Homo sapiens: one gene and its partners. The protein of the gene in region 2 interacts with the protein of the main gene of each other region in a biochemical or structural test. Each region holds a gene or a part of one and is shown on either strand. Other genes may lie near its edges.

Region 1 (7,000 bases), on a different chromosome or scaffold from region 2:
TTCATTACAATTTTTTTTGTTTTTTAGTACAAAGTGGTTGTCCCCAAAATTGGAAACATATTAGATCTTTGTACAGCATTGTCTGCTTTGTCAGGAATACCTGCAGATAAGGTAAGATGTTTCTGGGGTTGAAGTATATAAGTTGGTATTTAGTTTCTCAGTGCTGTAAAACCAGCTTAATAGAAATTCGTTTCCTTTTAGATGATAGTTACTGATATATACAATCATAGATTTCACAGAATATTCGCTATGGATGAAAACCTTAGTAGTATTATGGAACGGGATGATATTTATGTGTAAGTATAAAACTCATTGTGCAAAATATTACTTGAAAAAAAATTAATAGAAGTAACATAAAATTTTGAGAGTTTATGGTCAGTTTTGTCCTTGTAGGTTTGAAATTAACATCAATAGGACAGAAGATACAGAGCACGTGATTATTCCTGTTTGCCTAAGAGAAAAATTCAGACACTCGAGTTATACCCACCATACTGGTTCTTCACTTTTTGGTCAGCCCTTTCTTATGGCTGTACCACGAAACAATACTGAAGACAAACTTTATAATCTCCTGCTCTTGAGAATGTGGTAAGTGCCAGACAATTCTACATTGACAAAATAAATATGGGAATAAAATATAAAATAGCTAATAAAAATAAACACATAAGGTACTATTGGAATATAATTATTCAAGTCTGTATTATCTCAATTTTGTTCATAGTCAGATTATAGTCCTAATCCACTTTCTTATTCATGTAAAACATATTATGGAGGTAATTTCAAACCCAGGAAGCACGAAGTCTGTAGCAGTTTTAAACCAAAAGTTTACAGTTAGAAGGACATAGGAATTTATGTTATAATAATTATGTGTTACATGTTCATTCTGTGAAATCATAACAAATGTCAAATGCCATATGTTTGCACTGTGAAATAACAAATGTCAAATGCTTCATTTCTTTATATACATTACCAGTTCATGATTAATAGTATTGTAAGGCAGCCTATTTTTTGCCTTCCTGAATAAATCCCTTGATTTGAATTATGAAGTTATCAAGAATGTCATTTGATCCCTTTTATCCTTGAAAGCTGGTATATTTAGTATTCTTTCTTGCATATCTAATTATTATAGTTTCATAACCCATATATAAAGATCACATTATACAAATATAAGTGTTTTTAGCAACAATATATACCATCTAAATAGGGTAAGTTGAGAAATTATTTGCAACAAACATTTAACATTTAACCTAAAAGGTAACATATTAATTATTTTTATAAAGATGAGCAAAACAAATTACTAGTCAGTTATACTTATGGTACTAAAAGTTTGAATTTATCTTTGAATCTACTAAGTGACCACTGTTACTGCATTAAAAAGTTTTGTTTTACTGATAGAAGGAAAACTTTTTAAAAGTTTTTATCTTTGTAGTACTGAACTTGTTTGATTTTTGATTTTACTTAAGCCGATATGTCAAAATATCTACTGAAACTGAAGAAACTGAAGGATCCCTACACTGCTGTAAGGACCAAAATATTAATGGGAATGGCCCAAATGGCATACATGAAGAAGGCTCACCAAGTAAGACTTTTCTGTTAAATTGTACAAATGTTTCACTTAGATAATTGCCTCAGAGAAAAAGTTAAGAAAATGGGAATTAAAGAACTAAAAAATACCTGGAAACCTAGGATTAATAATATTAATAATTTAAAAATATAGCATTGGGTTTATTTAAAGCTCTCTAATATCTAAAATTAGGTGAAATGGAAACAGATGAGCCAGATGATGAATCCAGCCAGGATCAAGAACTTCCCTCAGAGAATGAAAACAGTCAGTCTGAAGATTCAGTTGGAGGAGATAATGATTCTGAAAATGGATTATGTACTGAGGATACTTGCAAAGGTCAACTCACGGGACACAAAAAACGATTGTTTACATTCCAGTTCAACAACTTAGGCAATACTGATATCAACTACATCAAAGATGATACCAGGCATATAAGATTTGATGATAGGCAGCTTAGGCTAGATGGTAAGTATTTGTGAAAAATGGCTTGAACATTAAACAAGCCGAGCATGTTATTTTTTTTTTAGGTGAAAACCATGAAATTCAGCTCTGTCAAGAAATATACCATTTACTTTTCTATCTCAAATTTTACATGAAAGGACTTAATATCTAAGTAGACTAAAATGTGTGTTTGTGTTTCATAAATGGAGATTGAACTCATGCTTCAGTTTTCTATCTTTTTTTAAACTCTTAAATTATTTCAATGGCTTGGAAACTGCTGTTTGCCCTAATCACCAGTACAAGTAGAAAAGATTGCTGTTTGTTTATTCTGGTGTATATCCTAACATTAAAATATACTTTAATACTAAGACATATTAAATTTTAAAGAAAAAATATGTTTTCCACCTTAGAAAGATCTTTTCTTGCTTTGGATTGGGATCCTGATTTGAAAAAAAGATATTTTGATGAAAATGCTGCTGAGGTAAGTCATCACTCACTCACTTATTTACCTTTCCTTGATTTACTTTATGTGATTACCAGAGATAATCATACTGTTGTGTTACACTCTTTGCTTCCACCAAATATGTTTATTTTGCCAGTAAAAAATTGGTCATGAACTAGAAAAAAAAGTCTTTGCAAAAATACCTTTTTTTTTTAAAGGTTCAGAGTTCATTTTGAACGTGTTTTGGTCATCCATATAGAAGTGTACAGGAATTATTTAGAAGTATATAAATCTCAACTGAAATAAGCTTTATGATTCTTTTGAGAAAGTTTAGGAGTTTTCATTATTATTCATAGTAAGATGGTATCACTAAAATGAGTTTTGTTTCATTTGTTCTCTTAACTCAAGAAATACTTCTCTTTAGGACTTTGAAAAACATGAAAGTGTGGAGTATAAACCTCCTAAAAAACCCTTTGTGAAATTAAAAGATTGCATTGAACTTTTTACAACAAAAGAAAAGCTAGGTGCTGAAGATCCCTGGTAAGAGACAAAATTAAATAATTGTTTTTGTTTTCTTTAAGGATTTATTCTGAGATATGTGCCACATCAAGTTGAAAAAGTAATTACTAAATTCTCTTTGATGTTTTAAATAGTAAAGGATTCTTTATATAAGTTGTAGCCTATTAAGAGGGATGGGAATGTCTTAAAAAATACGATTACAGTGTTGCCTTAATTTTATTACTGTGTTTTTCATAATAGCCATTATACTATTAATTCATTTTAGTTACCTTTTTTCCAAGAAATTTTAGCTATGTAATCATTTTGAGAGAAGCTTTTTAGGAAAAATGTAGTGATATATTTTGTGGTGTTATTCCATTAGAGCCCAGATTTGAGATTTTCTAATACCTGTCTTCCAGCACAGATTTGTGACCTATGTCTTTTTTGCATACTAAAAGAGAAATAATCTAGCCCTCATTATGTCTTTAAGTATTTATTTGTATATTAATTTGTAATGGTTTAACCTATTTGGAAAATGTCTTGAAAATAAAAATAATAAGAGTTGCTTTCAACCTGGTACATATTAGGCATACTATAATTGCCCACTGAATAAATGTAGAACTTTCCAAACATTTTTGTTTATTATTTTCATTAATGGGGGTTGTTTGTACCTCTATCAAGTGTTAAATACTTCTGTTTATTCTTAGGTATTGTCCGAATTGTAAAGAACATCAGCAAGCCACAAAGAAATTGGATTTATGGTCCCTGCCTCCAGTACTTGTAGTACATCTCAAGCGATTTTCTTACAGTCGATACATGAGAGACAAGTTGGATACCTTAGTTGATTTTCCTATCAAGTAAGCTTTAATTGTACTTTATAAGCATTGGGCAACTCTTCTTTCAAACTTATTTGATGCTTTTTGTTATTATCCTTTAGTAAACATCAGGTGCCATTGGACCCAATTTCAGCTTTCAAGTTTGTTTTTGAGTAGTTCTAACAGTTTATAAGGATCAGTGTTTCAAAATTTTTATTTTTTCTTAGAGATTTTCCAAAGATCAAAGAGAAAATATACTTTAAAAAAATAAAAACAATAAAAATCCTTCTGTGTTATATTACCTATGGGTTAATTGGTCTCATTTATAAATCTAAGATACTTTATGGTACTTAGTGATTTTGTTTATCCTAGGAATTACTTCATCATTACTCATCACTTACTCCTAAATATGTTGGGGTTTTTTGGTGTTTCTTTTGTTTGTTTTTTGAGACAGGGTCTCACTCTGTTGCCCAGGCTGGAGTGCAATGGTGCAATCTCGGCTCACTGCAACCTCCACCTCCTGGATTCAGGTGATTCTCCTGCCTCAGCCTTCCAAGTAACTGGGATTATAGCCACCCGCCATCATGCCCGGCTAATTTTTAGTACAGACGAGGTTTCACCATATTGACCAGGCTGGTCTCGAACTCCTGACCTCAAGTGATCCACCCGCCTTGGCCTCCCAAAGTGCTGGGATTACAGGCATGAGCCACTGTGCCCAGCCCTAAATATGCTGTTTTCAAAAAGACTAAAATAAAACAACAATGGAATTGCTTAGAAGGATAACACAGTAGTGAAATAAATCATCCCTATTGCATTATCCTTCAGTTTTCCTATTGCCATTATATGACATCATATTTGTAAAAAGATATATCTATGGCCATACCACCTTGAACGTACCCTGATCTTGTCTGTAAAAAGATACAAAGAAGTCTGTATACATCTTCACACTTTATCTCTCTTTTTTTCTTCCCCTGCTTTTAACAGTTGAGAATTCAGAATGACAAAAAGGGAACATTGTATTCCCCGTCACTTAGTTATTCAGCAGAAGGACTTCATCACACAATATTTTGTACAAGTACTTGGTACTATCCCATTTTGCAAAAAGAACTTTCAGCGGTATTATTTCATATCCTGTGATATTTGTACACCAAAATGTACTTGATACAGTTAGTAAGTAGACAATTGCTAAAGGCAGGTGTATCTATAAAGGTAACTAGAAGGAAATAGATTACATAAAACAAAATATTCACTGGATTACTCATTCTAATTGGTGGCTATAAATTTAAAATTTAAAATTATTTGTAATTATTGAGTGAAAAAAAGATCATTTTCTCTTTAACAAAATAGTGAGCCATAAGTTTTCAAGAATATAGCATTTGGCAATGTAAGTATAAGAAAAAGAATCAGGGCTGGGCACAGTGGCTCACGCCTGTAATCCCAGCACTTTGGGAGGCCGAGGTGGGTGGATCACAAGGTCAGGAGAGCAAGACTATCCTAGCCAACGTGGTGAAACCCCATCTCTACCAAAATTCAAAAACATTAGCCGGGCATGGTTGTGCGCGCCTGTAGTCCCAGCTACTCGGGAGGCTAAGGCAGGGGAATCGCTTGAACCCAGGAGGCGGAGATTTCAGTGAGCTGAGATCGCGCCACTGCACTCCAGGCTGCCTGGCGACAGAGCGAGACTCCCTCTCAAAAAAAAAAAAAAAGAATCAGAAGTAATGACAAACTAGAATCTATCAGAGATGTATTTAAAATTTAGAATCATTATTGCTTTTTAATGATGCAAATACAAGAAGAACAACCAGAAATAATAATAAGCTATTTACAAGAAGTCGTTTTCCAGGTTCTTGAATGATAGATTTTGATTAGTCAGTTACATTCAAAGGATGTTGCCCATTTCGGGTATATAGGTCATCAAAGACAGCAAATGTAGAATAAAAATTAAGGTTTGATATATTAATATTTTTTAAAACTTCTAAGGAAGTTTTCACTATTCCTGTATTTTTCTTCATATAAATCACTTCCTCTTTTTTAATCTCTGACCCTGCCCATAAATTACTTTCTAAAATTGACTGTAAAATAAAGATCTACTGGACCCAGATGGTCAATAGTGATGACTGTTTTTCCTGGTATACTGAGAGTTAAATGTGTTAGCATGAAAACGTTTATCTGAATGACAACATTCCACATTTTTATTTTATTTTATTTTTTTATTTTTGTGGGTACATAGTAGGTGTATATATTTGTGGGGTACATGAGATGTTTTGATGGAGTGTGAAATAGTCACATTATGGAGAATGGGGTATCCATCCTCTCAAGCGTTTATCGTTTGTGTTATAATCCAGTCACACTCTTAGTTATTTTTAAATGTATAATTAAGTTATTATTGACTATAGTCACCCTGTTGTGTGATCAAATAGTATGTTTTATTCATTCGTTTTTTTTTTTAACCCGTTAACCATCCCCACCTTACATCTCCCCTACCTTCCCACCACACTTGTCATCCTCTAGTAATCATCCTTCTACTCTGTCTGTCTATGAGCTCAATTTTTTTTTATTTTTAGATCCCACAAATGAGAACATGGGATGTTTGTCTTTCTGTGCCTGGCTTATTTGATTTAACATAATCTCCAGTTCCATCCATGTTGTTGGAAATGGCAGGATCTCATTCCTTTTTATAGCTGAATAGTACTTCATTGTGTATATGTACCAGATTTTCTTTAGCCATTTATCTGTTGATAGACACTTAGTTCCATCAACATTGCAACACATAGTTTCGTCAAATCAACAAGATTTGGTTGTTTCCAAATGTTAGCTGTTGTGACCATTGCTGCGACAAACATGGGGAGTGCAGATATCTCTTCAGTATACTCAATGAAGCATTTTAAAATTTTCAACCCATAAACAAATGTTTGCCAAAACATTAATATCTCAGAGGTACATGTATGATTTGTTTTGTAAGTTATTTGACTCATGATAATTTCCTTAGTGAGATATATATATATATAGATAGATATATATAGATGGATAGATATAGATATATATATGTATGTCAAACAACAATGGCAGAAGGGAATAGAATTCATTGCATTTAGGGACAACATAAAAATTAACTTGGTTTCTTTTTTAAACAGTGACTTGGATATGTCGGAATTCTTAATTAATCCAAATGCAGGTCCTTGCCGCTATAATCTGATTGCTGTTTCCAACCACTATGGAGGGATGGGAGGAGGACACTGTAAG
Region 2 (7,737 bases):
GCCTTCATGAGGCTGTGCTTGAGCTGGTCAATCTGCAGAAGGTCCAGTGAGCCTGGCTGTCCCCTCCAGGCGGTGACCGCAGACCCGTGGGGCCACCCCCGACCGCCCCGGCCTGCAGACCCCGCCAGGCCAGGCGAGGGTGGCCTGGTTTCCCGGGGGCAGCGGGCGCACCTCCAGCTGCAGGTCACGGTTCCGCATGAGCGCGGCGCCCTTCTCCTCACTCTGGTGCGCCAGGCGCATGGCCAGGTCGTAGTTCTCCTCCTTGCAGCGCTTGAGCTCGCGGCTGCCGGCCTCGCACTCCTCCTTGAGCCTCTGCACACGCTCCTGGTGCTTGCGCAGCAGGCTGTCCTTCACCCGCAGCTCCTTGATGAAGTCATCTTTGGAGCTCAGCAGCGCGGTCAGGTCCTGCACCTTCTTCTGCAGCTTCATGACCTCAGTCATCAGCAGCTGAGTCAGGCCTGACTCCCCGGACGCGTCTGTGGGCCAGGCCAGTGTCAGATGGTGCCGTGTTCCCCGGTGGCCCAGCTCCATCACGCCCTGCGCTGTGGCAGGAGCTCAGGGCTCCTAGGGATGGGGGCCAGGCAGAGGACCCAACACCACTGCCCGCTCCCCGCCAGCGCCTCCCCTGTCGGCCCCGCCTCCCCCGTCACTCACCGATGATCATGGAGAAGACGCGGGCCGGCTCCTTGCCTGTGACCTTCTTGTACAGCTGCGGGTAGTAGAGCTCCAGGCTCTCGAGGAAGGCCACGTAGCCCTTGTGGCCGGTCCGCTGCAGGATGTCCAGGAGCACACCTGCGGGCCAGAGAGGCCTAACTGGGGGCGGGGCACAGGCGAGGCAGAGGGCTGGGGTGGGTGGGCCTGGGGGCAGGGACAGGTGGAGGCTGGCATGCAGATGAGGTGTGCCGTGGTCTGGGTCTTGGATGAGGTACCCTGCGGGTCTTGGTACTAGGCTGGGGACCAAGTGCTGCCCACCCGCCCCTTGGCTGTCTCAGGAGCCCCCGCTGCGGTGGGAGCCCCGCTGCCCCTCTTGGCAGCACCAAGCCGGCAGGAGAGGCTGGGGGACGGGCCACGTGCCAGGGTTGAGGTTGGGCCTCAGTCAGAGGCCAGGGGCAAAGCCAGGCGGGGCTCTCCTGGGGTTGAGGGTCAGGGTGGCAGAGCGTGCAGCCACCTCCGAGCTGACTCTGTGGTTGGGTTTGGGGCCTGGGGCCCGCGGGGCAACACTGACCCACTTTCCGTTTGCGGATGACCAGGTTGGGGTCGCTGAGCACCTGCTCCTCATCATCGGGGTTCAGGACCTTGCACTGCCGCAGGTAAGGTGTGATGCGTGAGGGGTCGATGACCGAGGTGAGCGTCACCCGGAAGCCCTCCAGGACGCTCCAGCACTCGTCATCGTTCTCGTAGTCCGACATGGCCTCAGCAGGCAGGCTGGGGAGTGTGGGGCAGTGCTGAGAGCGATGCCGGCTCCTGCCCCCACCCGGGCCCAGCTCCCACTCCTTCTCAGACGCTGGGCCAGGGCTCTCGTCAGGGCATCGAGGGGGATCAGCCCAGGGGCATCCAGGAGAGGTGCCCAGCTCCATGTCCCATCCCCACGCTGGATCCCCCAGGGAGGCAGCAGAGACACAGTGACCCCGCTCCCCACCAGACCAGCCGAGGGCCCCTCCGCAGCCTTTCCCAGCCCTTGCTCCTGCCCGTTGGCATCCATGTCACCCAGATACGCAGCGGGGGAGGCACAGATGGGGTCTGAGAGAGGAACTCCCCCTACAGCATGACCCCCTCTGGCCTCTGCCTCCTGGACACTCCCATCACGCCCTGGAGCCTGCAAGGTTAGCCACCTCCATGGCTGGAATGGGCAGAGGAGCTGAGGGCAACTGCCTGGCACTATGGCCAGCCCAAGCTGGGTGAGAGCAGGTTGGCCAGTGGCCCTCCCACCAGCACAGCAGCTGGGGGAGCCGGTTCTTGTGGGACTTCCTCATTCCCCTGACCGACGCCTGCTCACATCCCTGGCTGTGCCCTCCCTCCTCCACGGCCGGCTGCTGATGATGCAAGAGTGGCCACCCAGCCCTGCTGCAGCTGCGGGGTCGCTGCACTGGCCGGGAAGAGCTGCCCACAGGAGCGTGTCTCTGTCACCCCCTGCCGGCCCCGCAACCCTGGGAGGGGCTGTCAGTGTTGCCCTTGGCTGGCCAGGAGTGCTGCTGCGGTGTTTTCTCCAGGTTGAGGTGCCGGGCACCAGTGAATCCCTGGACTCTTCTCCTGCCCCAGATGAGGCCCGGCCCCCATCCCAGTGGCTGCAACAGAACTACCCATGTTGGGACCAGCCACTGCTGTCCCTTTCTGCCAGCATGGTGGGGGCCTCAGCCGCTGAAAGCCACTCCCTCTGAGACTGGGACTGCGGCAAGGCTGGGAGCAGCCACGTGGTCCTCAGACAGCCTCCAGCCCCGCTGGGAAACGCTGGTTTCCAGCCCAGAGGAGCTGGGTCACTGCTCCTGGAGACATAGTTGCCCCAGGCTTGGTCTTTTGAGGCATTTCTCAACTTCCCGCTGCACTTTGTCACCCCATTCAGGACAGTTTTGACAGACAAGGGACTGAATAAAAACACTGGCCACACGGTAGACAGTCCTGGGAACACTGGGCCCCTTTCCTGCTTCCCCAGCTTGAAATGCAGGGTCCCATCTGCCACCGTAATTCCACTGAAATGAACACATCTCCGCCCAGGGGCCGTGAAAGGGACGGGGCCGCATGGCGGAGGCTGCCTGGCTGCCTGTGGGAAGCCTCAGGCTGCTCTGGGGGATCAGTGCCAGGATCCTGAACTAGGCCAACGCCAACCTTCCTGGCCACCTTTCAGAAAGCACCAGACCCACCCACCTGAGGGTCTTCCAGGAGCCACCTGCACTGCAGACACACCAGGAGCCTGGGCCGCGGAGCCTCTGGGAGATGCTGCCCGGGGCTGCAGGGAGGGAGGAGCACGCCGGACGCCTGTGCACTTCCTGATGGGTTCTGCTTAACTCCACAGTCCCGCCAGTCCTCCCACAGGGGGACAGTCCCTGGTGACCTGCTTTCTGATTCGCCCAGCCCAGGAGGCCCCAAGAGGCAGACGGAAGTGGAAGTCCGCTGCCCTCCAGAGGAAAGCTGCTCCCAGCCCTCCCAGCCTGGCCGGGGGCTGGGGGTCCTGGGGATGCCCCAGAGGCCCAGCCCTGGCACCTGGCAAGTAGAAGAGACAGCAGAGACCCCCAGGGGGCTGGACAAGGCCAGCCCGCACCCAGCCACTTTGACCTGGTCACAGGCTTCTGGAGACTTCTTCAGTAAGGCATGCTTTGCTCTGTGCGAACACCCTCGCCCTCGCCAGCATCTCAGGACAGCGGGGCAGGGCATGTGCAGGGGGGCACACAGCCACACGGCATGGCCAGCACACGCCTTGGTCACAGAAGGGCTGCAGCCCACCTTATGGAGCCCAGGAGGCCACAGCAGCCTGCCAGGGGCCATGGCATCGGCCACCACCCAGCTGCACACGGGGGAGAAACGTCCCTTCCAGAAGTGTCGTTATCCTCGTTATCCCCATCATGAGGCATCCCTGCTCTCCACCAGGATGCATGTGAGGACTGAGGCCACTCTCGGGGTCCCCCAAACCAGCTTCAGAAGAGCCGGTGACAGCAGGGCACAGCTCGGCCCCCATCCAGGGACAACGGACAGCAGAGTCTGCCCTGAACTGTGCACTTCAGCGTGTGGGCTGCCAGAGCCTCATCCCTGCAGGCTTGGGAACCCCCAGGCCCCGCCTCACCCGGTAAAGCTGGTTGAACTGAGTTGCCACCCAACAGGTTCGAGAAGGGGCCGCCAGGCTGGAAGGCAAGGAAGCTGGTGTGGAGCTTGCCTAACCGTTCTCAGCCTCCAGCCCTCAGGCCTCTGTGCGGACAACGTCTGACATCACACATTAAGGAGCGGACAGTTAGGGGTCCTCCTGGGCTCTCGGGAATGCCACATTCCAGGGGGCCGTGCCCCTGCTGGACCCCTCACCATCAACATGAGCGAGTGTGCAGGCCGGGGCCATCCTGGGCCCTGCCAGGGAGCGAACCGGAGCTGGCACCAGGCCCTCATGACCCAGTGTTTCCCCAGCGTTTAAAACGCGGACCTTAGTGACTTCCCTGTGGTGTGTGTCCTTAGGAGTGAACACACATACCATGTTCTCTAACCATATCGGAAGCTAAAAATCGGTAACAGATATCGGCAAAATCTCTAAATATTTGGAAATTAAATAATATACCGCTAAATAACCCACAGATCAGAGTGGCCCCCAGACTAGGCACCAGACTAGAGAACCAGGCACAGCAACACATACTCAGGAGTGAGGTCGGCCATGGGACCGTCCCGTCTGCCAGGTGCCCAGGGCTGAGGCCCCACAGTGGCTCCAGTGAAGGATCGAAGCCCAGATAGCCAAGGGCCTGGGGGCGCTGCTGCCACAGAGACAAAGGAAAGGGAGCTAGGGGACAGACGGAGAAGATGGGGGCTAGTCTTATGCCAATAAAGGCCCATGCAAAAGGAACAGTGGAGGGTGGGGGCTGCCGCCGTGTCGGGGTAGCCAGGTCATCTGTTCCAGGGAACCCCCTGGGTCAGCCAGGGCAGCGCGAGGGCTGGCAGCCATCTGGGGAGGGTGCCGGCTAGCCTGAAGGACAAAGCCACAGATGCTTTCCAGGAAATGGGCGAAAGAAAGCCTGCTTCTCTGACAGGAGGGCAGCCGGGGTACGGGAGGCCTTCCAGGACCCCAGCTCTGGGCCCCCAGCACCCTGCTTGTTCCCGAACTGCCTGCACTAGGGTGGCTCAGCCACTAGGCAGCAGCCTGACCCCAGCCAGGTGGGGGGTCCCTGTACACTGCCCGGTACCTCAGGACAACAAAACCACAACAGCCTGTGTCCAGCTCCACAATTAAAAACAGAACTTTATTCCTCCAAGTGTTCAGGTGTGCACTTGGGGAACAGCCATGCTCCATGCCACACAGTCAGTCGGCAGGCCCGCCTCTGTTCACTGCGGACCTGGTCAGTCAGCGGCCAGCAGATACCTGGCCTCTGGCTGCCTCTCTTGCAGGCTGGGGGTGGGCTGTCTCTCGTCAGCAGGGCCACGGGCTTCTGAGAAAGTGCTTGTCCTGGAACACAGGAACACCAGGTGGGGGGTGCCCTTGACCCCAGCCAGACCCCAAGCAGGGCTGGGACAGACAAACAGGAACCAAGACCACCCCAGCGCCGGCCACGCCCAGTCTGCTTGGTAAACCTGACCCACATGCGCCAAGGGCCAGGCCAGGGCACCAGGGCTCCAGCAGTGAAGAGCCAGCCTGGTGGCTGCGGTTGGGGATGGTGATCGTTTTACAAGCTGGGAGACGACGCAGCAATGCACGGGAACAGGGCACCACCAGAGCACAGCGGCCAGGGAGGAGCCCAGACCCCAAAGGCAGGGAATGAGCCTATGGTCAGGGGCACAGTGGTGCCAAGGCCCGAGGCATGGGTGGCCAGCAGGAAGGATGTGGGTTAAATGCTTCTCCCCCTGGAGGGCCTCCATGACCCTGGACCTGCCCACCTAACCCAGCACACCTGCTGTGAGCGCCAAAGAGCCGAGCAGAGGCCAAGGCCCCCTGCCATCTGGACACCACTCTGTCCCCTGGGTTGTAGGGCAGTGGCCTCCCCACTCAGGACTCACCTGCTGCTCACACCAGCCGCCTCCGCTTCCGGGTGTGCCTGGCATGCCGGGTTCTGAGCACGTCCAGGTCGTCAGGGTCATTAGAAGTATCCAGGCAGGAGGAAGCAGAGCATTTACCAGAGTCTGGGGCTCCCTGAAAGAAAATCCAGGCAGTGGGGACAAGAGTGACACCCCCGAGCCATGATGGACGGGGAAGGGACGGGAGTGAGGAGGGGCCCTGTGGGTGAGTGTCCCACTTGGGACAGGGCACCCTCAGCTCAGGCGGGAGCTGCTCCAGGCACTCCTGGGGCCACACGTGACTGTGCACTCCCTCCCTCGGGGGCTCTGACCCCATCCAAGCCATCCCTCTGGTGGGCCTCCCACTCCCCCATGGGACAGCCATCACACCCAGGCAGGGCAGGAGGCTGTACATGGATGGGGCACAGAGGGCCTCTTCCCCTGGCTGGCCGGGGTCCTCCCCAACTCTTGGACATTGCTTCCTCCCACACTTCAGCCCAGGGACTTGCGAGACACAACCCTGGGGAGAGATGGAAGGCCCTCTGCCACACTCCCTATGACAGGCCCACAGGTCCAGCTGAGGCTGCCTGCTTCTGGTGGTTTCTCAGGGAGGCCAGCCTCCCAGCTGCTGCAAGTGGGCACCCTGGCACCAGGGGAGGAGGCCTCTCTGGGGGCCCCAGCTCCACATGCTTTCCAGGGTTCCAAACATGGTTTCACCTACAGAGATTGGAAAACTCTCCCCAAGGACACTCAGAGAGGTGACAGCAGAGAGGGACCTTTGGGACCCCAGAAATCCAGAGACAAACACAGCCACCACCCTCCACTGTGCCCATGGCCCACCCTGGGAGCACACGTGTGTGTGGCGTGTGCGGCTCAGAGCCGGGTCAGCGTCCATCCCAGAGCTTCTCGCTCAGACAAGGCCACCTGGCTGGGCAGCATCAGGATGGCCGGAGGCTCCTGCACGAGAATGAGGCCTCTCTTCTCCCCTTTTCCACACTGCCCCAAAGGGAGGCCACTTCTGCAGAATCTACACGCAACTGGGCAGGCCAGGAACCAGCTTCCTCCTCCTAAGACACCCAGCAGCCAGCCTTCCTGCCCGCAACTTCCACCAGCCCCCACCCCACTGCTCCAGGCAGGCGAGGGCACCCCAGGGACCGCCGCCTGCCATGGGGAAGTGGGGCTGGGCGCCCACCCTACCTGAATGGGGCATGTGGCTGTCGTGCAGCCCGGCTGCCCGTCCCTGTCTGCAAGTTCCAGCTCACTCAGGAGGTCTTCATCCTCACTCTCAGAGCCCACCCTCGAAGGTACTGAGAGGGTGGTGCGGACGCCTTGGGGGGCCAGGGTGGCCAGGAGCGCAGGGAGGGTGAAGGCTGCCAGGAACCGCGCCCGCAACAGGAGGTAGGCCGGGTTGTCCTGGAGCTGCCCCCGCACCAGCCCCAGTGAGGCTTGCAGTGCTCCGGCCGGCCGCTCAGCCTCGCCCCCCACCACCAGGGAGGTGGCCTTGTGCTCCAGGGCCTTCTTGTGGAGTAGGAGACCGGACAGAGCTCGCAGGCTGCACAGGGCTGGGGGCTGATAGGGCAGTCTGCTGCCCAGAAGAGGCACACGCACCCCCCGCTGGCCCCCCAGCCACTGCTGTGTGGCCGCCTCGCCCTCCTGGGACAGCAGGCCCAGGTCCAGGGCCCCCTTCTCAGGCCCAGGCTGGGGTAGGGGCGGCTTCTCCAGGTCCAGGGCCCCCTTCTCAGGCCCAGGCTGGCGCAGGGGCAGCTTCTCCAGGCCCAGAGGCCCCCTGGGCTCCTGTGTCCCTGAGGGGGACCCCGGCGTCCCCCTTGGCTCAGTTGCTGGGATGACACCACCGAAGGCTGGCAGCCTCCCGGACCAAGGGGGTTCTGCTTCAGGAGGGTCAGCGTGGGAGGACGTCCTGGGCTCAGGTATCTCCCTGGCCACCTGGGCCTCTCCAGGGACAAAGGCCACACTGCCATCCGCTTCTGCAGGACTTTGGGAGAGGGCGTGTGTGGGAGGAGCTGGGGTGTCTGTCCTGCAGGAAGGCTCCGGTTCCCTGTT
Region 3 (7,346 bases), on a different chromosome or scaffold from region 2:
TGTGGCCTTGGGCAAGTCACATAACTTCTCCAGGCCTCACTTTCCATTCCTACATGATGAAGAGGTTGGACAGATGGTTTCAGACAGAGTCCCCTCAAACTCTTCCTGCTTATGTGACTCCATAGACGGGGAGATGGACAGCAGCAGCGCCTAAAACGATGGCTCTGGGGGTGGAGGGCCAAGCCTTGTGCAGGCTCCCAGAGGCCCAGGCCCTTGCTCACCCTCTGATGGGGCCTTCATCCTCAGACAGCTAGACTGGAAGGGAGTCAGTTGTAGTTTTGAGATAAAAGGGACAGGGAAGGAGCGATGGTGAACATGGGCCATTTCTCCTGAGGCCCATGGGCATCTGCTGGGTGCAGGCCTACTCAAAGACTAGTGTGTGGAGGGGTTGGGAGCCCCTACAATACAGGGGAAAGTAATTATTTAGTTTCTGTTTGAGTATCTCGAGGCCAGAGAGCTCATTACCTCCCAAGTTAGCCCACTCCATTTTCATAAAATGTTTGAGCCAAAAACCTTCTGCTTCCAAACGCTCCACAGTGTGGTCCAGCTTAGGCCAGGGTTGGTCATTCTTTCGTTCATTCATTTGGCCTTTATTGGTGTGTACTGTGGGCCAGGCCTTGCACCAGGCTTTGGGGCCATAGATAGGAGAAATAAGATTCTGTCTCTGGCCTTGGAGAACTACGTGCTCGACTAGTATCCCAAAGCCAGGTACATGGGGCTGCTGGATTTAAGTGATTTAGCTTGAAAAAAGGATTCCAGGCCCAAGTAAGCTTGGGAACCATTTTATTAAACACAGTAAAATAGATTTATTTGCAACAAAATTTCTCTAAGCTTTTAATATGCAAATGCACACTGAAAATTCTCCAAGGGGGTGGGTATAAAAAATATACTATATTTCCCACACTTATTAATAGAGAGCATTTGGGGAAATGCAGTTCTAATGTTTTTGTTTGTTTGTTTGTTTGTTTGACCAGTGGAACTTGGAGAAGGCTTCACGGAGAGGATATTTGAGCAAGGCTCAATAAAAGTTGAGTAGGAGTTTGTCAGTGAAGACAGGAAGTCTTAAGGGAGACCGATTAGAGTTCTATGCCAACTATGCTCAGGTCACTCTGCATGTACCGTTTCACTTAGTCTTCAAAAGTCCTGATGTGGGGGACAGAGCCAAAGAGGTCATCAAAAACCTCTAGAGACTCCTAGAGGTCTAGCCCCTCCCTTCTTGAATCACCTTACATCTGGGCCTTATTCTCCAAATCTTTACCTTTAAGTCCTGGCCCCACTCAACCTGGCCTCTACTCTGGCTTAAATCTAAACTTGTTGTAGAGTATCCGGACCTGATCTCAGTCTTAACCCCTCATACACCTTGGCCTAACCCTCGGTACTCAAACCTGCCCTCTCAGCACTTTGGCACCCTAACTTATACCACTCTATTAGGTTTCACCCTCACCTGTCCAGCACATTCTAGCCCCCGTACTCCTCTTAGTCCTGATGCACATCTGATCCGGTCTCCGCCCCCACAGAACCCCCAGCCTGCCAGAGCTCAGCTACCCGGTTTAATACAGACCCATCCTCGCGACCTCGCCCTCAGTCTGACAGTGGCCCTGCCTTTGCCCAACTCTGATTCCGGTTCGTCCACAACCCTGCCCCAGCCCAGTATCTGGTCCAGTTCTGATCTCACTTGTTTCCGCCATCCCATCCGCATCCCCGACTTCTCCCTAACCGCGGACCAGCCGGTACTCCAGGTCTGTCTCAGATCCCTCAGGGTCCGGACTGCCCAAGGCCCCGCCCCCACGGCCCCGCCATGCGGCGGCCCCGCCCCTCCCTGCCCCGCGTTACTCCTGATAGGGCCCTGACCTTGCTGGCGGCCCCGCCCCAGGACCATTCTGACTGGGCCTGGCCCGCGGTCCAGCCCTGACCCCACCCCCCGCCCGGCCCCACCTCCAGCCCGGCCCCGCCCCTTCCCCAGGCAGGCCGGGTAGCGCACCTGCAGCTCGTCGAAGGCGTCGTCGATGCCGGTGACCTGATGCTGCTCGTGCAGTGCAGGCTCGTCGCAGAAGAAGCAGAGAAGCGCGCGGTCCGTGAGGCAGAAGAGCTTGACCTTGTCGTGCGCCTGGCAGGGTCGCGCGGCGCGGCGCGCGTTGAGGATGGCGTCCAGCGGGAAGGAGCTGTAGCGCTCCACGATGTTGGCCAGCTTGAGGCTGGGCGCCAGCGCGGGCTCGGCGAACGTGCGCCGGCACTCGGGGCAGTCGCGGGCGCCCTGCGCCTCCTGCCGCACCCAGTGCTCCGTGATGCAGCGGCGGCAGAAGTAATGCTCGCAGCCCAGGCTCACCGGGTCCTGGTAGATGCTCAGGCAGATGGAGCACAGCAGCTCGTCCTTGAGGCTGCACGCCATGGCGCCAGGGGCAGCAGAGAGGGGGGCCCGAGGGGCAGGGGGGCGGCTGAGAGAGCGCGGCGCTGTCGGAGGCAGCACCGAGGGCTGGGCGCGGGGACGAGGCCCGCACAGGCAGGGGTAGGAGCTACCGGAGAAGGGAGGGGGTGCTGTCCGGAAGGAGGGTAACGCGAGGAAGGGGTGCGCGGCTGAGACTCCGTGGGACGCCAGCCCGGGAGGGCAGTCTAGAGGTAGTGGGCAGCTCAAGGCGATGGGCGCTGGGAGGAGGCTGTGAGCGGCTGAGGGACGGAGATCCTGACGGGGAGGTTCTAGGGGGCGGGGCAGTCCTAAGGGATAGGAGCTGGGAGAAGGGGATCCCGGAGCGGGGTGGAGCCCTTAAGGGGGTCGAAATCCCGGGGTGGGGGCGGTGCGGGGAGGGCGAGAAGCTGGGGATGGGGAATCCTGGGGGAGGGGGCAGCCAGGCCGAGCCGTACATTGGCTGTGACCGGCAGAGAAGAGGAGGGGTGCCGGCCCGCTCAGCTGCCGGATCCCGGCCCCAAACCCTGGCCCAGCGCGACCCCTTACCCCCGCGAGCTTAGCAGCCACCGCTTCGGTCCAGCGCAGCCTCTCAACCCGGAACCAGCCGAATCCGAGCTGCCGGTGGCCGCGGCTGCCTCCCCGCCCCCGTGGGCGGGACCCAAGCAACTCCGCCCCCGCAGCGGGCGGGGGAGGGGCGGGGCCACCAGCCGGTTGACCCCGCCCCACCCCCACCATCCTCCAGCTCCCAGGGAAGCGAAGCCCAGCTGTTCCTTCGGGGTGTGTACTTGGAACTGCATCCAGGTCTCGCTTAGGGTCCCCGCGGCGAGGCGGAGCAGCTAATTTGAGAGCACAACAAATAAACAAGGAGCATCTTTCTGGATCATCGATTTGAAGATGTAGAAAAAATCATATTTTGTATTAAAACGAACAAGAATATATTTGGAATACAACTTCTGCATAAAATATAAAGATAAAACTCTTGAAATGCCCTGCTTGCTTAGAGCGAGTTCAAGGCCCTCACACTCCTAAGCCCTGGGGTCCCATTTCCTCTTCACTTTCTTAAGGAGTGCTTGGGGAGAAGTTTGGAAAGCCCTGGCTAACATCTGGCCCCGGAGGCTGCCTCCATTGGCAAACAATTCTGGAGTGCTGTATTTGTGTGTGTGTGTGTGTGTGTGTGTGTGTGTGTGTAAGGCGGTGAGGGGTGGAGCAGGAGAGAGGGAGAAAAAGTAATAGGAGAACTTGTCTTGTGTGCCAGATGGAGAGGGGATAAGGGATTTCTAGGCAGAGGAGACAGCCTGTGCAAAAGCATAGAGGCGTGAAAGGGGAGGGCGCAGTGAAGGAAGTGCTAGTAATTCTGTACTGTTGGGGGTGGGGTGGAGAAGGAGCCTGGGTGGGCTGGAGGGCATTGTGGGTCATGGTAAAGAATTTCTTGAAGGCATGGGGCTTTCAGGCAAGGGAATGACCTGGTCCGATTGGGTTTCAGGAAGTCTTGGAGATAATCATTATACCATCTGCAAGGTGAAGAAGACAGGGAGCTTTTCCAATGTGTCTGCGGATGCACAGCACTCAGCACACAGTAAAGGTGTGTAGCTGAATAACCGCATCAACGCCCTGGGTTGCAGGAGGAAGGAAAGACTGGGCACCCCTAAGGTGCTGTTGTCATCGTGCCTGCAGGAGGTGAGACCCGAACTGGGGCCTCAGCAGTGGGTAAGGAGAGAAGACTAGGGTATTGCAAGTACAGACACGGTGACATTTGGTGATGGTTGGATACGGGGGTGAGGGAAATGAGCCATAGAGGGTGGCTACCAGTTTCTGCCTCCTCCAGAAATATCTTCATTGGTGTTAAACTTTATTGAGGTACAGTTTATGAAAAAGCTCTCAGTTTAGTTCTCTATGGTTAACACTTTCTCCATCACACCCTCATCTGGCCCAGAATCTCCATCATTGCGAGAAAAATAGTTGGTTGCTCATGCAACAGCAGTTTCTCAACATTTTCTTATGGGCAGAGCCCTGATTTTGGTCAGGTGGCCCCCTTCCCCAAGTGACCCAAGGAAGGCTGACCCCAGCCCATTTCCAGGAGTGAGTCTTGTTTGGTCCAAGTCCATTATGGTGGTCTCATGGAGTGAGTCTTGTTTGGTCCAAGTCCATTATGGTGGTCTCATTCCTCTTGCCAGTGACGGTTTGGGCAGGTCCAGCCTGAAAAACTAAAGGGGAAGCCTATGGCAGAGAGGGGTTTTCAGGAAATGGTCTCTTTACTTTGCAAAACAGTCTGCCCCCTTTGCTGGGATATGTTTGGTGGCAATGCTTGGAATTGCAACAGCCATCTTGCTCCCAGTCTGAGGATGCAGCAAATACAGAAGGGAGGGCAAGGCCAAGAGAGTCCTAGGGAAGAGAAGCTTTTATTCTGATGCAGAGTCTGGACTTCAGGATATGTGAGATGGTCCATCTTATTGCATAAGCCAGTTTAACAGTAGTGCATTGTCACTTTGCAACCCAGAGAATCCCAACTGATATACTGACGTGCACCCCTAATGAGGGGGTGGGGAAAGTGAACAGGGCAGAGTCTAAATTATTGAAGCATTTGAAATGAAATGAAAAAAAAAAAGGCTTGATGATGGATGAAACAGTGACTTCATTATTCAACATGTATTTACTGATGCTGACTCCAAGCAGGTCTTTGTGAGGAGGTGGAATAAACTATGCTCCTTGCTCCCAAGGAGCTGGCAGTCTAGAGGGCAAAATCAATGAGAAATTCTTATCAGGCACAGTAGGGCTTGCTAAGCATTCTCACATATATTATTGGATTTCAGTCCCAAAGCAGCCTTAACTAGTTTATATTATTATCCCCGTTTTATAGAGGAAGATACCAAGGCTCAAATAAAGGAGATGTGATGGAAATTGCTAGCTGTCCACTAAACTTCATCCTCCTGTTCTTCTATGTAGTAGAGTAGCAGTCGGAGGAATGGCTGGTCCACTAGAGATCATACATCCCAGCTGTTCTTGCAGCCGAGTGAGACTTGGTGACTAAAATCTTTCTAATAGAACATAAATAGAAATAGACCTTAAGGCATGAAGCTTTTGCTCTCCCATGCTCCATTTTCTCTTCTCTTGAGTTGGAACATAGATGTACCAGGGACACAGCTTCAATAATGCTTCAAAAGGGCTGATGGAGCAAAGATATGGGAGGATCCTGGGTTCCTGAATGACTGCATGAAGTACAGCCACCCTGACATGGACTACAGAGTGAGAAGTAAACTTATTTTCTAAGAGCCATTGTATTTTGGGTCTTTTGTTGCAGCAGCCCAGCTTTCTCCATACTATTTTGCAGCTGTTTTTATTATTTATTTATTTGAGATGGAGTCTCGCTCTGTCACCCTGGCTGGAGCACAGTGGCATGATCTTGGCTCACTGCAACCTCTGCCTCCCAGGTCCAAGTGATTCTCCTATCTCAGCCTCCCTAGTAGCTGGGACTACAGGCGCATACCACCATGCCTGGCTAATTTTTGTATTTTTAGTAAAGACAGGGTTTCACCATATTGGTCAGGCTGGTCTCAAACTCCTGACCTCAGGTCATCCAACCGCCTCTGCCTCCCAAAGTGCTGGGAATACAGGCATGAGCCACTGCGCCCAGCCAATTTTGCAGCTGTTTTTAGAAGAGGCTCTGGTACTATTTTACTCTATTGTCTAAATCCTTTCAGTAGATAGTCTTAATATGTAGGTCTAATCTCCTCCAAAGGACATAGTATGTGGTTTTCTCTGGCTGAAAGTCACAGACTCTTTTTTTTTTCTTTTGAGATGGAGTCTTGCTCTGTTGCCCAGGCTGGAGTGAAGTGGTGCAATCTTGGCTCACTGCAACCTCCACCTCCCAGCCTCAAGCAATTCTTGTGCTTCAGCCTCCCGAGTAGCTGGGATTACAGGTGCCCGCCACCACGCCAAGCTAATTTTTGTATTTTTAGTAGAGAGGGGGTTTCACCATGTTGGCCAGGCTGGTCTCAAACTCCTGACCTCAAGTGATCTGCCTGCCTTGGCCTCCCAGAGTGCTGGGATTATAGGTGTGAGCCACCGTGCCCGACCCAGTCTCTTCTCTTTCACTTTACTTCCCAGTGTTCAGTCCTTTTATCCTCTGAGCAGTTCTTCTCTTGACCTTATTCCATCTCCATTAAGATGCAGAACACTAAAACTGTTGATTATCTTTACATTTGGCAAGTCATTGCTCTCTCCACATCTGATGTGGTTGAGTGGTCTGAACTAAGACTTAGAGATCCTGACTGCAGTGTATGCCATCTGCTTCCATTCATACTCCAGAAATTAACATCAGGAATTTTTTTTTCTGGAAAGCTATCCAAGAGCTATTGTTGAGTGAGAAAAAGAAAAGAAAGACCCAAATACACTGACACATAGACACCCACAGACTTAGACACAATCACAGGCATTATTTGCATAACAAAAATTCTATAGAACTATATTCTAATTGTGTTCTTTTGTGGGCTGGGATTATGGGGGACTTTAACTTTTACATTAGATAGCTCTGTTTATTATATATATTTTTGTAATCAGAAAAAATAAAGAAAATTGATCCTCATTATTTATGGATTCCATATTTGCAAAATCACCTACTTCTAAAATTTATTTGTAACCTTCAAATCAATACTTGAGGCACAATTGCTATTATTTGTGGACATACTTATGTGCAGTGGTGAAAATCTTGACTTACCCACACATATGTTCCCAGCTGAAGGTGAACAAAGGGACACCCTGCCTTCTTGTCTCAGCTGTCATAGTGTAAACAAGTATTCTTTTTGTGACTTATTTGGTGCGAACCGTTCTCATTTTTTGTGCCTTTTTGTTGGTGATTTTGCTATTTAAAATGGCCCCAAGCATTGTGCTGAAGTGCTCTCTGGTGTTCTCAAGCACAAGAAGGCTGTGATGTGCCTTAAGGAGA

The links.
Region 1: of the proteins of CARD9 (region 2) and USP15, one has a biochemical effect on the other in vitro, tested with the Homo sapiens proteins (one study listed by BioGRID).
Region 3: of the proteins of CARD9 (region 2) and TRIM62, one has a biochemical effect on the other in vitro, tested with the Homo sapiens proteins (4 studies listed by BioGRID, with this or other methods).

The regions. Positions count from the first base shown.
Region 1 is NC_000012.12:62,389,404-62,396,403, forward strand, and holds part of USP15 (ubiquitin carboxyl-terminal hydrolase 15), read left to right. Parts: intron 1-27; coding exon 28-111; intron 112-201; coding exon 202-296; intron 297-379; exon of another isoform or gene 380-393; coding exon 394-585; intron 586-1,460; coding exon 1,461-1,576; intron 1,577-1,753; coding exon 1,754-2,026; intron 2,027-2,412; coding exon 2,413-2,483; intron 2,484-2,852; exon of another isoform or gene 2,853-2,868; coding exon 2,869-2,984; intron 2,985-3,649; coding exon 3,650-3,799; intron 3,800-6,891; coding exon 6,892-6,995; intron 6,996-7,000. UniProt on the Homo sapiens protein: Hydrolase that removes conjugated ubiquitin from target proteins and regulates various pathways such as the TGF-beta receptor signaling, NF-kappa-B and RNF41/NRDP1-PRKN pathways.
Region 2 is NC_000009.12:136,370,670-136,378,406, forward strand, and holds the start of CARD9 (caspase recruitment domain-containing protein 9), read right to left. Parts: upstream 3,001-7,737; 5' UTR 2,863-3,000; intron 1,426-2,862; 5' UTR 1,410-1,425; coding exon 1,226-1,409; intron 793-1,225; coding exon 655-792; intron 477-654; coding exon 172-476; intron 33-171; coding exon 1-32. Other genes in the region: SNAPC4 (snRNA-activating protein complex subunit 4), read right to left, coding at 5,687-5,812, 6,874-7,737. UniProt on the Homo sapiens protein: Adapter protein that plays a key role in innate immune response against fungi by forming signaling complexes downstream of C-type lectin receptors.
Region 3 is NC_000001.11:33,179,044-33,186,389, forward strand, and holds the start of TRIM62 (E3 ubiquitin-protein ligase TRIM62), read right to left. Parts: upstream 3,001-7,346; 5' UTR 2,390-3,000; coding exon 1,982-2,389; intron 1-1,981. UniProt on the Homo sapiens protein: E3 ubiquitin ligase that plays a role in antifungal immunity by mediating 'Lys-27'-linked ubiquitination of CARD9 downstream of C-type lectin receptors; leading to CARD9 activation, followed by activation of NF-kappa-B and MAP kinase p38 pathways.